Regions from separate parts of the Homo sapiens genome. Here region 1 is linked to region 2. The links come from fine-mapping of genetic effects on gene expression. A gene starts in region 2. The other region holds a variant in brackets. All regions are shown on one strand. Distances are from middle to middle.

Region 1 (8,533 bases), 660 kb before region 2:
TCTTATTTATCCCTTCTAAGTATTTTTTTGTATCCATTAACCATTTCCACCTCCTCCCTACTACCCTTCCCAGCCTCTGGTAACCATCCTTCTACTCTCCGTGAGTTCAATTGTTTTGATTTTTAGATCCTACAAATAAGTAAGAACACGTGATGTCTGTCTTTCTGTGCCTGGCTTATTTCACTTACCATAATGACCTCTATTCATCTGTTTTTTTTTTTTTTTTTTTTTTTGAGAAGGAGTCTCACTCTGTCGCCCAGGCTGGGGTGCAGTGGTGTGATCTCGGCTTACTGCAACCTCTGCCTCCCAGGTTCAAGTGATTCTCTTACCTCAGCCTCCTGAGTAGCTGGGATTACAGGCGCCCAATAACACGCCTGGCTAATTTTTGTATTTTTTAATAGAGACAGGGTTTCACCATGTTGACCAGGCTGGCCTTGAACTCCAGACCTCAAGTGATCCACCCACCTCGGCTACCCAAATTGCTGGGATTACAGGCATGAGCCACCGTGCCCGGTCTATAATCCCATTTTCTACATAATGCTCAGCCTCCTAAGTCGCTGGGACCACTGACATGTGCCACCACACCTCGCTACCTCACTAATTTTTTCTCTTCTCATTCTCCTCCTCTTCCTCCTCCTTCTCCTCCTCCTCCTCCTTCTTCCTCTCCCTTCCCCTCTCCTTCCCCCTCCCCCTCTCTCCCTCTCCTCCTCCTCCTCCTCCTTCTTTTTTGTAGAGAGGAGGTCTCTCTATGTTGCCAAGGCCAGTCTTGAACTCCTGGGCTCAAGTGATCCTCCCCATCAGTCTCGCAAACTGCTAGGATTATATGTATGAGCCACTGCACCCAGCCAGTTTTAGAAGGGTTTTTTTTGTGGGGTTTGCAGAAGGGGGTGTTGTAGATTCCTTGACATTTTTATCATAGACAATCATGTTATCTTCGAAAAGAATGATTTTAAATTCTTCCCTTCCAATCTGTATTCCTTTTATTTATTTTTTTTTTTTGCCTTATTTCACTAACTAGGACTTGTAGTACAATGTTGAATAGTGACATGAATTAACATCTTGCCTTGTTCCTGACCTTAGGGAGAAAGCATTCAGACTTTCACCTTTAAGTATAATGTTAAATGTAGTTTTCTTGTAGGTGTCTTTTATCAAGTTGCTGAGAATTTTTTTTTTTTGGTCATGAATAGGTGTTGGATTGTGCTAAAGATGTTTTCTGTATCCATTTATATGATCATGTCATTTTACATGGATGGATGTTGGATTGTTTTTATTAAATTATTTTTAGATTATTTTTGAGGCAGGGTCTTGTTCTGTCACCCAGGCTGGAGTGCAGTGGCGTGATCATAGCTCACTGTAGCCTTGACTTCCTGGGCTCAACAGATCCACCCACCTCAGCCTCCTGACTAGCTGGGACCATAAGTGTGAACTATCACATCTGGTTAATTTTTAAATTTTTTGTAGAGACGAGTTCTCGCTATGTTGCCCAGGCTGGTCTTGGACTCCTGTGCTCAAGAGATTTTCCCGCCTGGGCCTCCCGAAGTGCTGGGATTACAGGCGTGAGCCACCTAGCCTGGATGTTGGATTATGTCACATGTGTTTTCTGCATCAATTTATGGGATCACGTAGTTTTACTTTTAGACTGCCAATATAATGAATTATATGGATTGATTTCCACATATTGAGCATCCTGCATTCCCTATATGAAGCCCATTTGGAGGTGGTGTAATATTCTTTTTTTTTTTTTTTTTGAGATGGAATCTTGCTGTGTCACCAGGCTGAGTGCAATGATGCGATCTCGGCTCACTGCAACCGCCGCCTCCTGGGTTCAAGCAATTCTCCTGCCTCAGCCTCCCAAGTAGCTGGGACTACAGGCGCGCCACCACGCCCAGCTAATTTTTGTATTTTTAGTAGAGACAGGGTTTCACCATGTTGGCCAGGCTGGTCTCAAACTCCTGACCTTGTGATCCACCTGCCTCGGCCTCCCAAAGTGCTGGGATTACAAGTGTGAGCCACCACGCCTGCCGTAATATTCTTTTATGCATGACTGAATTCCATTTTCTATTTTGTTGAAGATTTTTGATTCTGTATTCATGAATGATATTGGTCTAAAGTTTAATTTTCTTTCTTTCTTTTCGAGATGGGGTCTCACTCTGTCACCAGGGCTGGAGTGCAGTGGTGCGATCTCAGCTCACTGCAACCTCTGCCTCCTGGGTTCAAGCGATTCTCCTGCCTCAGCCTCTGGACTAGCTGGGATTACAGGCGCCTGCCACTACACCCAGCTGATTTTTTGTATTTTTAGTAGAGACGGAGTTTCACCATGTTGGCCAGGCTGGTGTCAAACTCCTGACCTCGTGATTTGCCTGCCTCGCCCTCCCAAAGTGCTGGGATTACAGGTGTGAGCCACCTCGCCCAGCCTCAATTTTCTTTCTTTTCTTTTCCGTCCTTCCCTCCCTCCTTTCTTTCTCTATTCTCTCTCTCTCTCTCTTTCTTTCATTAAAGACATTGTCTCATTCTGTCACCAAGGCTGGAGTGCAGTGGTGTCATCACACTTCATTGCAATCTTGAACTCCTGGGCTCAAGCGATTCTCTTGCCTCAGCCTCCTGAGTAGCCAGGACTACTCACACCTGCCACCACACCTGGGTAATTTAAAAAATATTTTGTAGGGATAGGGTCTGGATATATTGCCCAGGCTGGTCTCAAACTCCTGGCCTCAAGTGATCCTCCTACCTCTGCCCCCCAAAGCACGGGGATTATAGGAGTGAGCCACTGTGCCTGGCCTAAAAGTTTTTCTTCTACGTCTTTTTCTGGTTTTCATATCAAGTTAATGATGGCTTCATAAAATGAGTTGGGAATTATTCTTTGTACTTCTATTTTCTGGAAGTGACTGTGTAGAATTGGTGTTATTTCTTCTTTAAATGTGTGGTAGATATGAAGACAGTTGATAGAAGGAAAAAAATGAAAATGTGTGGCAGAATTTGCAAGTGAACATATCTGTGCCTACAGATGTCTTTTCCGGGAAATTTTAGATAACAAATTCAATTTCTTTAATAGCTATAAGGTTATTCCGGTTACCTACTCCGTATCACATGAGTGTTGGTAGTTTGTGGTTTTCAAAAAATTGGTCAATTTCATATATGTTGTCAAATTTATGTGCATAGATTTGTTTATATTATTCTCTAATTGTCCTTTTAATATCTGCAGTGTGTGTAGTGATATCCCCTTTTTTGTTTCTGATATTGGTAATTTTTGTCTTCTTTTTCTTTGTCAGTCTTGGTAGAAATTTTTAAATTTTATTGATCTTTTCAAAGATCCAACTTTTAGCTTCATTGATTTTTTTCTATTGTTTACCTGTTTATAATTTTGATTTCTGGGCTGGGCATGGTGGCTCACGCCTGTAATCCTAGCACTTTGGGAGGCTGAGGCCAAAGGATCACTTGTGCTCAGGAGTCCGAGACCAGCCTGGGCAACATAGTGAGACCTTGCCTCTGTTTTTAATTTGTATAATAAAGGCATAATAACTTTGATTTGCACCCTTATCTTTATTATTTTCTTTCTTCTTTCATTTATTTTGCTCTCTTTTCTGTAATTTCTTAAGTAGTATGCCTAGGTTGTTGATTTGAGGCCTTTCCTCATTTCTAATATAAGTATGCAATACTGTAAATGTCCCTGTAAGCACTGTGTTAGCTGCAGATTTTTTTTTCTTTTCACCCCTTTGTGAGGAGAGAGCTGCAGATTTTGAAGTTTTGTTTTTATTTTTATATTTTTCAAAATATTATCAAAGTTTCCATGAGACTTCTTCTTTAATGCATGATTATTTAAAAATGTGTTGTTTAATTTCCAAGTGTTTAGAAATTTCCCTGTTATCGGCCAGGCGCAGTGGCTCACGCCTGTAATCCCAGCACTTCGGGAGGCCGAGGCAGGCGGATCACGAGGTCAGGAGATTGAGACCATCCTGGCTAACATGGTGAAACCCCGTCTCTACTAAAAATACAAAAAAAATTAGCCGGGCGTGGTGGCAGGTGCCTGTAGTCCCAGCTACTTGGGAGGCTGAGGCAGGAGAATGGTGTGAACCCGGGAGGTGGAGCTGGCAGTGAGCTGAGATTGCGCCACTGCACTCTAGCCTGGGCGACAGAGCAAGACTCTGTCTCAAAAAAAAAAAAAAAAAAAAAAAAAGGAAATTTTTTTCCCTGTTATCTGGGAAATTGGTATCTAGTCTATTATTTGCAGAACATGCTTACAGTGAAGTATAATGCCCATCTCTTATAAAAAGTATATTTTTATGTCTATTTCATGAGCATTTTTGGCTCATGATGATCATTAAAATCTTTTGATTGGTAACAAAAATGACAGTAATAGTAAATGACATAGTAAATAGCAAATATCTGCTGAAAGAGTCCAATCTTTTTTCTTTTGACAGGTGGTCTGACTGACAGCTTGGGTAACTTGAAGAACCTTACAAAGCTCATAATGGATAACATAAAGATGAATGAAGAAGATGCTATAAAACTAGGTCAGATTTCTGTTCTCATATTTGTATCAATGTAAGTTTGATAATAAGAGGAGTTAACTTCAGGCTCTGACA[T/C]TGGCTGTGTCTGCACAAGGCAAGGATGTTTTTATGTACTTGTGGCTACATTGGTTTCCCCAGACATTTTCCCTACTGCCATTAAAATCCTTCAGCATCATTTTATTCAAATTGTACAACACCAGATGGTAACCCTTTTGGGAAGAGAGCCCCTGACGTGTTTTTAACTTCCGTCTCCCTGGCTCATTGGCTATGTTTTTATTTAATGCATAGAAACAATATTTTAAAGTTTATAGTATAGTTTCATAGTTGCATAGAAACAATATTTTAAAGTTTATACTATGGTTTCATAGTTAAAAAAATTCATAAATGAAATAGGACACAGGAAACAATGTGAATCAAGAAAACTTTGGGGGAAGCATGCTTTCATTCTACACTGCAGGTTGTGTTTCCCCAATCAAAAAAATGAAAAGGAAAAGGAAACTTCAGGAACACAAGCAGAACACATGGCTTACCACAGGGAACCAGGCCCTGCAGGCCAGGGAGGATTCCTGTTAAAGCTGCTTTCCTTGAATGTCCCTGTTTTCTCGTGTGTTGGATTTTTTTTTTTTTTTTTTTTGGCTCTTTTTTTCCCTACTTGAGTCCTCACTAAAATACTCCTCTCTTCCCTTCATCTTGTTCTTTCTTATTCTGCTTCCTGCCGAAAGACAACTCTAGCCTATAAGCCAAACATGGCTGAAGCCTGGGCATGGTGGATCACACCTGTAATTCCAGCACTCTGGGAGGCCGAGGCAGATGGATCACCTGAGTTCAGGAGTTCGAGACCAGCCTGGCCAACATGGTGAAACCCTGTCTCTACTAAAAATACAAAAATTAGCTGGGCATGGTGGTATGCACCTGTAATGCCAGCTACTTGGGAGGCTGAGGAAGGATAATCACTTGAACTCAGGAGGAGGAGGTTGTAGTGAGCCGAGATTGCTCCACTGCACTCCAGCCTCGGTGACAGAGATAGACTCCATCTTGAAACAAAAACAAAAACAAAAGCAAAACATGGCTGACTTCTTTTCCTTATATGTCCTACGTGAGAATAATCAAATTAATTCAGTGTTCAATAAACATTTATTGCATGTGTATAAATTACACAGAAAATCAGAGCTGGAAGGGGATTGAGAGCATCTAATTCAACTCATTCATTTCACAGAAAACTCCACTAGAACCTAAAATAGCTTATTGACTTGCTCAAGATCTTACCAACTGGTAGAAAGAGGTCAAAAAGTACCTCTCTAGGATAGCCTGCTTCTGCTATTAAGGAATCAAAATGTGAACTTGACTAAACCAGTCTAATTATATCAGTAATAATTTACTCTTTATTAAAGAGTTACTCTGCTATAGATTAGACACTAGCCTCGGCAGTTTTATATACCTCATTCCATTGAATCCCCACAACAGTCCTAGTACATAGATATAATGATCCCTAACGCTTCAGCTAAAAGATTGAATAACTTGCCCAAGTTTATAATTATTAAGTAGGGGATCCAGGAACTGACTGCAAAGCTCATGCTCACAACCTTTAACCGGTATATACTCCCATGACAACAATGAACATTTATGGAGCACTTACTATGTGCCAGGCACCACATTAAATATGTTAACGTACATTATCTGCAACCTTCCCGAAAGCTCTGCAAGACTGATATTATTAGAATCATATATTTTATTTCTTTTCTTTTCTTTTCTTTGAGATGGGAGTCTCGCTCTGTCGCCCAGGCTGGAGTGCAGTGGTGAGATGTTGGCTCACTGCAACCTCTGCCTCCTGGGTTCAAGCGATTCTAATGCCTCAACCTCCGAAGTAGCTGAGATTACAGGTGTGCACCATCACGCCCAGCTAATTTTTGTATTTTTAGTAGAGATGGGGTTCCGCCATGTTGGACAGGCTGGTCTTGAACTCCTGACCTCAGGTGATTCGCCTATCACTGCCTCCCATAGTGCTGGGATTACAGGTGTGAGCCACCATGCCTGGTCATTAAAATCATATATTTCTTTCCCGTAGGCTACAGTACCATCAAGATAAGACAGTATTTTAATGACACAAAGTGAGGCCTAACCAATCCTAAACTGCACATTAGCTTTAGACTTAAGAACGGGGGATATTTTAGAATGTTTCCAATTATACTGTTGATATAAGGTAAATCTTTCTTCTGGTTAAACATGCTGCAGTGGATGTGGTCTTCATTCTAAAGCTTCAGGCAGGCCCCATATCATGAGTCCAGGCAAGGCTTTTGAGGCTGTAGACAGTTGCACTAGAAGCACTCCAAGGAGCCAAGTCCTCATCTACCTCCCTGAACTCAGCCCCCCCGCTGTTTAAGATTTTTGAGAAGATTGAAAGGAGAGTGCTCTAGAAGACTTCATTCATGTAAAGAATTACGGTAAGAGTATACATTGATGCCCATTAAAAAGACTACAAATTTACTACAGTGTTTCTCATGCTACTAAGAGAATAACCTCCATATAAGTGATTTTTTGTGTGGTCCAAGAGACTGGAAAGTGAGAATTGAAAGAAAAAAAGCTCTCGTTGATTCTTTGTAACTTAAAGTCGCTGCAGGAAGAACATGGCAAGGTCTCTGCACAATTATTCTTTGCTTTCTTTTCAGTTCATTAATCTATGCTTAAATCGAATTAACTTGGTATCCTAATGCATTCCTTTCTATCATTTTTCAGCTGAAGGCCTGAAAAACCTGAAGAAGATGTGTTTATTTCATTTGACCCACTTGTCTGACATTGGAGAGGGAATGGATTACATAGTCAAGTCTCTGTCAAGTGAACCCTGTGACCTTGAAGAAATTCAATTAGTCTCCTGCTGCTTGTCTGCAAATGCAGTGAAAATCCTAGGTAACTGTTGCTTCCATTAACTGAATGAGGACAGTATAACAGAACATGTGATACTATTATACTAATTCACACTAAATGTCTCAAATGGAAATTTAATTTTAAGGAAAACTGGAAAATAAAAACTTCTCGATAATAAGCAGATTGTTTTTAATGATTTTTCTCCATATTAGAATTAAATCAACTATTGATGGATAATAGGGGAGAATTTCAGAATAATTGAAGATGTAATTTTTAGAGAAAGTGAAAAGGAAGAAAATAAGAAATAGGTGCTTGAAACTTGCCACACAACCGGTCATATAATTTACTGCCTAATAAACATTTAAATGAATGGATAAATGATTGAGAAGTGAGAGATAAAGATTTTCTTAAATGATCTCAGGCTTCTAATTCCTACCCATTGCCCTGTTAAGATGAAGTTAATGTGCATGATATGATAATTGAGCCTTCTGAGTTCCCAAAGGGATGCATATCAACTACGGGGAAACTAACTGCATATTTCTGGATAAACTATACATGTGTAATTCAGACATATTTTAAAATTTAGATTTTGGAAAACAGTGGTATAATCTTTTTAAAGTTAAACTATATAACTGCTGGGAGTCTCTAAAGATAACTAAGGAAGCCATTTGTATACTAATATAAAGTTACAGCTAGAGAAACCCACAGTTGAAAAAGGCTGGATAAGTACTGGGAATATGAGAACAATGAGCACATGCCTTTATTTCTCTACTTACTGATGGGGAGAGACAGGCTTAGAACTGCAAATAGCAAACGTACTCTTTTAAAGAGAAGTTCAGCAGGTTTTTTATTGTAGAGCACAAAACCCAGAAGATACTTTAAGAAAAGGGCTCATATGATTGATTAAAAATAATAATAGCCAATATTATAACAAGAGTACATATTCATGAAAAACTTGTCTGATTTTTTTAAAAAGGAGATTTTTCTAGCCCTGACAGAAAAAACTTCAGCTAGATTAAGCAAGAGTGATAATATGTGAAGAAAAGCACTAAGCAATTCTTAGCTAGACTGGTACTATTATATAATTAATGTTTGCATGCAAAATAGTTTTCCATTACCTCAACATATTTGTGTCTTTGTCATTCAAACACGTCTTTTGTACA
Region 2 (8,000 bases):
GTCCAGGTAACAGAAAAGTAAAGACAGCCGCTGTACCCCAGAGCCTGCTAAAAGTATTCAAACGAGCTAATCCTAAGCCTGATTACCTTGTCATGCCCACTCTTTCCTGCAGAAACTACAGTAAAGGCTCTTGCCCACCTTGACCCCTCACTCCAGCTGCCTCCTAACACTGGTGCTTCTCCATGTGGTCTTGGGTGGTGTGCTGTGTCTTCTGTTTGTAGGGATCTGTCGATATAAACCTTTTCCTTCACGATAGTCATTTCTGTGTCTGCATATGTTACCACATTGATTAAAAAGAGTAAGTACTGTATGATTCCACTTACCCGAAATTCAAAAGCAGACAAAATTAACTTATGGTGTTAGAAGTCAGGGTAGTGGTGTTTTTTTTTTTTGCTTTTTTTTTGGTTTTTTTTTTGCTTTTTTTTTGTTTTTTTTTTTTTTCCTGGAAGGAGGATGTAAGGAGGCAGGAGCACAGATCCTGATATGCTGATAATCTGTATCTTGACCTAGGTGCAGCTTGCAAGAGGGTGTTCAGTTTGTGCAAATCAACCAAGCTGTATATTTATAATTGGGCACTTTCTTCTTGCATGTAATACAGACCAGTTGCATTATTGGTTCCAATTTTCTACCTCCCACTATATCCCTGCCCTTTACCATGTAACTTTACAAATAGTCTCTCACTTTGGCTCTAGAATCCACCATATGACTTGATTTGGCCAATACAATAAATAGGAAGTAAGGGTGTGCTTGTTCTTGGCCTGAGCCTGAAGAGGCCTTGTGTGTTTCTTCTACTCTCGTACTTTTGTTATTAACATTATATAGACATGGTGGAGCTAGCTCACTCATCCCAGGATGAGAGCCTCAGCTAAGTTTCTCCATCCAAACACAGCCTGGAGCTGGGCTCTAACTTGTTACACAGATGAATGAGTGAATATTGTTAAGATAAGTCAAGCCCAGCCCAGATTTCTGACCCACAGCCAACCCACAGATGCATAAGCTGAAGATGACTGGTTTTATCAAGCTAATTGTTATAATAGTGGAGAAAAGATCATGAGGACAAAAAGTGGGCAGAGTCGGAAGAAAAGAGAGGAAGAAATTGAGACAGAAGACATTTCATTTAAAAAAATATTCCATTGAGCTGGGTTTGAAATAGTGCACTGCCTGTTCTCCTAATGCTGTATGGTATCATGAAATCTATTGTTTACTGAGTCTATGAGCCAGCTTCCTAGGGAGGCTATGGCAATTGAGGACAGGGAAGAGGTAACACTCAGGAACATAGAAGGAGAATTTGGGTCCAAGTGGGTGGAGGGAAAAATAACTGGGTTTAGTTTTGGGTAGGGCTGGTTTTGAGGTCTCTGAAGGACATGTAAGTGGAGTTTTCCAGCAGGGAGAAAACGCAGAGCTAAAGCTCATATCTTTGCTGGCAATCTAGATTTGGGCATCTTCAACAAGCAGGTTGTAGCTGAGGAAGCTGGGACTGGACTTGTACTCTAAAGCCAGTGCAAAAAAAGCTTGAAACGGCTATGATGGCTAAGACCTGGCTTTTCCATGAAAAATGCTTCGGTCAGTATGAGTGATTCCAAAGTGGTGATCAATTAAAAACTGAAGTATGATTAGCATTAATTATAACCCAATGGGAATATGATAAACGACTCTTGGTCAGCAAGCAGAGGGTGCCCTGTAGTGCTAAAGCATCACCATATACCATGTGTGCCAAGAATCAGGAGACACCCCAAACGGGAGCAGATGAGGGGTTGTGTCTGTCATTGGACCAGCTGGCCTGATCCAGCAGAAGTGGATGGAGATACACTGAATGGGGCTCCTGGGAGGCGTGAGTTGAAGGGGAAGGAAGAGAAGAGACCTCCAAAGTAAGGGAAGAGTGAAAAATGAGAAGGACTGGGGTGGAGCCCCAAGTAGGGACCAGAGGAGAAAACAGGGATAAAGTAATCAAGGGAGATGGGACAGGAAGATGAAAGAATGAGGTAAACAGCAGGTGGGAAGAGGAGGTCAACCTAAAGGAGAAAGCCGGGTCGAAGAAAGAAGGAAGAGAAGAAAAGAAGGGTTGGGAAACAGAGGAGGAGGCAGCCAAGAAAGCCTGGAAGCTGAATCATAGAACGGAAGAGGTAGAAGACGGAGGGGCTGGAGGATAACATAAAGGTGGGAAACGGAAGAGAGAAAGAACCGCGTCTGCGTGTATGACGGCTAGACAGGAGTTCAGAGAACAGCGGGGTCGCCAGGCCACCACCTGATGGGCCACGGCTCATTGGCTCTAGGAGCTGGGAAAGGGCATCCCAGGAAAGAAGCCCTAGACTTTAGCCTGAGTCTGGGCCACTCTAGGGGACCGGGAGTGGGGTGGCGGGAGAGGACGCGCAGAATCTCGACTTCTGGCCCCAATCTGTGCATGATCACCCGAGCTCAGCGGACGCTCCTCTCTGACCCAGGCAGGCGGCTCAGGGACGCGTGCGGGGATGCAGAGAGAAACCGCTGAGGAATTAGGGCCGGGAGAGACTGGTACCTGCCGGGGGCGTGTGGTGGGGCAGAGCTGGCACTGATGCTGAGAGTGGCTAAGGAGCGCGGCGCCCCAGAGCAGAAGGGCTGGCAGACGCTCAGAGAGCCAGGATGGTTCAGGGTCCAAGGAAGGTCCTATGTTGGGTGGGAGCTGTGAGGGAGTGAAAGTGCATGAGGAACCGGAGGAGATGGAAAGACCTTGGCTTGGGTGTTCGAGGGTGGGACTGCGTGGTGACCGACGGCACAGAGGGTGTGTGTTGGGGCGGAAGAACCACCCCAGCTGAATCGTCCCCGTGGGGTTTTCTTCCCGTGTCTTAGTTCCAGAAGTATGCGCATCAGACGCTAATAGTTGAGGAACAAGTCATGGAAGGACAGCCTAAGCGGGAGGTGAATGTAAAGCCGTGGAGAGGGCGGGCGAACTAAGAAGGCCTTCGTTCTCCTCCGGCCACCGCGGCTGCATCCTTGAGAAAGGGGTATTGCTGCGAACCGCGCCAGGGCTGGACGCGGCGAGGTGGGAGGCAGGATGGAGGGGCGGGAGCCAAGGCCGAGGGGGCGGACACGGGTGGCGTCTGGCGCTCCATAAAGGGGTTGCGGGGGCCGCGCTCTCTTCTGGGAGGGCAGCGGCCACCGGCGAGGAACACGGCGCGATGCAGGTTCAGTGCCAGCAGAGCCCAGTGCTGGCAGGCAGCGCCACTTTGGTCGCCCTTGGGGCACTGGCCTTGTACGTCGCGAAGCCCTCCGGCTACGGGAAGCACACGGAGAGCCTGAAGCCGGCGGCTACCCGCCTGCCAGCCCGCGCCGCCTGGTTCCTGCAGGAGCTGCCTTCCTTCGCGGTGCCCGCGGGGATCCTCGCCCGGCAGCCCCTCTCCCTCTTCGGGCCACCTGGGACGGTACTTCTGGGCCTCTTCTGCCTACATTACTTCCACAGGTAGCGTTTTTCCCTTGCGGGCGCCCAGTGCAGCGCACTGCCCTGCTCCCGGCGTCCAGGAGCGCAGCGTGGAGCGCGCACCGAGGAACGCCAAGGAGGCAGCGTGGGGCGCTGTGAGGAACGCGGAGGCCAGCCTGCCTGGCGCACCTGGCGGGGGCCGGGGCCGGGGCTTGGACGCTAGAGAGTTGACAAGCGGCTGCGGCACAGACGCCGCCTTCACTCCCCCAGGACCTCATCCGCTCTCAGCAGCTCCAAATCCTCTGGCTGCTCGAGAGAAAGAGGTCCTGCGGGCGGGAGGCGACCTGGAAAGCTCAGGTTGGGGAGACCTATTGGACAGGACTGTTCCTTAACTGCGCGCAGGCGGCGGTTACCTGTGGCATATCGCGCCCCGCCCCGCTTCCCTTTCTTCCTTCACCTTTTCCTTGCAGGGTGGGGACAGATTAGTTCTGGGATCTTGGGAGAGTCTTACGCGTTTGGCATCTCCCGAGGGAAACTCAGCTCAGAGGTTCTCATTGATTTAGTCTTTGCAGGTCTAAGGAGGAAGGTGGGTAGAGCCCAAATCCAGACTTCACAGATGGGGAAGAGAATATAGTGAGATCCCACTGACTCAAGCGAGGGTCCCCGCTTCTTAGGCCCCTCCCAAAAGGGACCAAGCACACCACCAATTCATCTACCTTTCCAATTTCCCTGGGACTTGAAATGTGAGTGGGTAACTTACAGCTCAAATGTTCTTCTAGATTTAAAAAATCCGGGTTCAGGAGAACTTTGCTTTCTGCTCTGGGAAGGAAAGACAGGAAAGAGACCAAGGGATGTCAGGGTTCAGAGAAAGACTGTCCAGCCTCAGTAAAGTCTCACAGGGAAAGGGAAGAACGAACACATTGTTAAATTGCCTACCATGCCCAATCGTTTAGTATCTATGGTCTCACTTAACTCTGTTGTAACCTTTTGAGAGATATTTATTATGTCCACTTTACAAAGAAACTGAGGCTGAGTAAGGTTATGGGACTGAAAGAAGACAATACAGCTGGTGCCCGCTAAGATGCAAATCTGAGCTTGTGAATCTCTGAGGTTTAAGACCTTTTAGCCGTTTTAAGTAGGCAGATATTCTATGCAAGAAGAGAACAGAGCCCATAAACAGAGAAAAGTTATCAAACGAAATCAAAACCTTGAAGGTTTTGCCTTATTTTGAGTAGAAGATTCCTAGGGTCAAAAGATCAAGGAAGTTTGGATTAGAAATTAGGATAAAGAATGCCTCTGGCATAATCTGTCTCGTAAAGAGAAAGTGATGCCTCATTTCGAGAGAAGAAGGTGTCAGAGACGGATTTCAAACTGTCTTTCTTAATTTCCTCTTATCCTCTGAATCTTCTTTATTGGTCAAGATTTAATATTTATGCAATCTTAACTGAATTCTCACTCTTTTTAAAAGGCAAATGTTGTCAAGTAATAAGAACTAAACTGTATCCTTTCAACAAATATTTACTAAAAGCCTGCTGTGAACAAGATTCTTTATTTTACACAGATTTTATTTTACTCAGATTTAGATGGTTTAATTTGCACAGAAAGAAGGATGTTGGATACAGGAGATAAGAGATTAGTTTTTTATTTCACTGATTTTTGAACAGACATTTGACAGAAATGTGATTTTTGTCAACAATTATTTTTATCTTCAAATTAACTACTGTATGTTGGCAACATAAGCAATATTTTTATGAGGTCATTTCATCTTAATGATTAGTGTTTTGTGACAATCATATTAATGTAATCTTTAGGCTTGTTTTTGAAATCAAAAGGCACTTTGCACAATACATTATGACCGGTGCATTTAAAAAAAAACCCAAAGGAGTAATTATGCATAAAACAAATATCTACATATTGTCCTTCTTCAGAGGAAATTTTAAAATATTAGTAAAGGACTTGGAGATTCATTCTGCCTGAGGGAAAATTGCCCACTGGAAGTACAACTCTTGAGCTACTTGTTCCTGAGGCATCGGGATCTGATGTTTGTCTTTCCTCTTTTTTGAATTCTTTCTTTGAAGCCACTGGAGTGTGTGATCTGTTATTATTTGAGTGCTTACAGGGTGTTACACTCTGTGTGCCAAACACTCTGAGTAAATAATTTACTCATCCTCATACCAACCCATTTAGGTAGGCACGCCCATTTTGCAGGTGGAAAACTGGAGCAAGAAAAGGTTAAATAACTTCCTTGCCCAAGGTCACACAATAACGAGGAATCAGAGTTCAAACCCAGGCAGTAGACTCCAGATCTCAGGCTCTTCAGGTATGATAATAAACTGTTGTATACTTGTTGGATAAATGCGACCTCATTCTTGCTTTTTAAAAACTATATTTATTCTTAAAATTATTATGTAAAAATTTTTTAAATTATAAAAACATTTTTTCCTAATGAAAAATGGAAAAATCCCAAAAGTAGAAAATACTCATAATTACATCTAAGTATATTAAATATTAATGTTTTAGAGAATTTCTATCAAATCTTTTTCCTTAGTAGATTTTCACACATGCTTGTTATGTTGAATATATGGTTTTTTAGTTCTGTTTAATTACCTAACATTTTATAGTATTTTCCAACATTATCACAGATTTCTTAATATCTGCTTATTTCATCTACTGTAAAAATAATAATTTACCTATATATTCATTTATAGTTGGACATTTAATTTGTCTTGGGGTGAGGCTAGGTTCATTGAAGCTGTGATGTACATTTTTTGCATCTAAATTCTTTTCAAAGGTTAGATCTATTTTCTTAGGATTTCCAGAAGTGGTTCAAAGGTTATGAACATTCTTTAGGGTCTTGATATAATCATACATATCTGTTTCGAGGCTTAAGGAGTCATTTGGCTTGATACTGAGGGTGCATTAAGGAACAAGCATCAGGCTGTCTTGGCTTTATCTCGTGCTGTGTGTTGCTAAGACAGAGAATAAGACGGAGAGACAGGGAGAAAGGATGGCTCAGGTTTGGCTCAGACTCTTTTGCAAAATGTCCATTGGGGACTGTTCAAAGCAGCAATATGTCCCATCAAATAGAAGTTAAAACTCATTGTACTTTTCTCAATACAAGGATGGCACACAAGAATGTAGATTCCACAGGGTCAAAGGTTTTTGTCTCACTTTTATGGCTGTATCCCCATTGTATACAAAGAGCTGGTACATAGTTGGTACTCACTAGAATTTGTTGAATGCATGAATGAACTCTACTTACAACAACCGTACAGACAGAATTGTAGGAGAGCTAGCAATTACTTGGGAATCATAATTGCTGAGATTGCATAGTTAGGTCAATTCAGATAACTTTCCTCTCTTCAGAATCTATTGTTGTGGCTGTTTGGATTCTTTAGCCACATGGAAATGACTGCTGCCTAAGCACATTGCCTAATCCCACTGCCAAAGGCATTTGAAGTCAAGAGTTATCTCACCTCTTTTTTTTTTTTTTTTTTTTAATGTTTTTTTTTTTATTATACTCTAAGTTTTAGGGTACATGTGCACATTGTGCAGGTTAGTTACATATGTATACATGTGCCATGCTGGTGCGCTGCACCCACTAACGTGTCATCTAGCATTAGGTATATCTCCCAATGCTATAAGAAAAACCAACACAGAGACCACCACAGTTCCCAGAGTGTGATATTCCCCTTCCTGTGTCCATGTGATCTCATTGTTCAATTCCCACCTATGAGTGAGAATATGCGGTGTTTGGTTTTTTGTTCTTGCGATAGTTTACTGAGAATGATGGTTTCCAATTTCATCCATGTCCCTACAAAGGACATGAACTCATCATTTTTTATGGCTGCATAGTATTCCATGGTGTATATGTGCCACATTTTCTTAATCCAGTCTATCATTGTTGGACATTTGGGTTGGTTCCAAGTCTTTGCTATTGTGAATAGTGCCACAATAAACATATGTGTGCATGTGTCTTTATAGCAGCATGATTTATAGTCCTTTGGGTATATACCCAGTATTGGGATGGCTGGGTCAAATGGTATTTCTAGTTCTAGATCCCTGAGGAATCGCCACACTGACTTCCACAATGGTTGAACTAGTTTACAGTCCCACCAACAGTGTAAAAGTGTTCCTATTTCTCCACATCCTCTCCAGCACCTGTTATTTCCTGACTTTTTAATGATTGCCATTCTAACTGGTGTGAGATGATATCTCATAGTGGTTTTGATTTGCATTTCTCTGATGGCCAGTGATGATGAGCATTTCTTCATGTGTTTTTTGGCTGCATAAATGTCTTCTTTTGAGAAGTGTCTGTTCATGTCCTTCGCCCACTTTTTGATGGGGTTGTTTGTTTTTTTCTTGTAAATTTGTTTGAGTTCATTGTAGATTCTGGATATTAGCCCTTTGTCAGATGAGTAGGTTGCGAAAATTTTCTCCCATTTTGTAGGTTGCCTGTTCACTCTGATGGTAGTTTCTTTTGCTGTGCAGAAGCTCTTTAGTTTAATTAGATCCCATTTGTCAATTTTGGCTTTTGTTGCCATTGCTTTTCGTGTTTTGGACATGAAGTCCTTGCCCACGCCTATGTCCTGAATGGTAATGCCTA

Evidence for each region. PIP is the estimated chance that this variant, and not a neighbour inherited with it, causes the effect.
Region 1: its variant is fine-mapped to the expression of SRD5A2 in nasal epithelium (TOPMed, PIP 0.94).

Annotation. Positions count from the first base shown.
Region 1 is chr2:32,237,011-32,245,543 of GRCh38, reverse strand. It overlaps NLRC4 (NLR family CARD domain containing 4), which reads left to right. Exons shown (of 9, transcript NM_001199138.2): 5 at 4,419-4,511; 6 at 7,242-7,412. Among named protein-coding and RNA genes, the nearest start is that of NLRC4, 24 kb to the left of the region's middle. The variant T/C (reference allele first, on the strand shown) is at 4,584.
Region 2 is chr2:31,576,056-31,584,055 of GRCh38, reverse strand. It overlaps SRD5A2 (steroid 5 alpha-reductase 2), which reads left to right and starts at 3,118. Exons shown (of 5, transcript NM_000348.4): 1 at 3,118-3,436. The coding sequence starts at 3,156.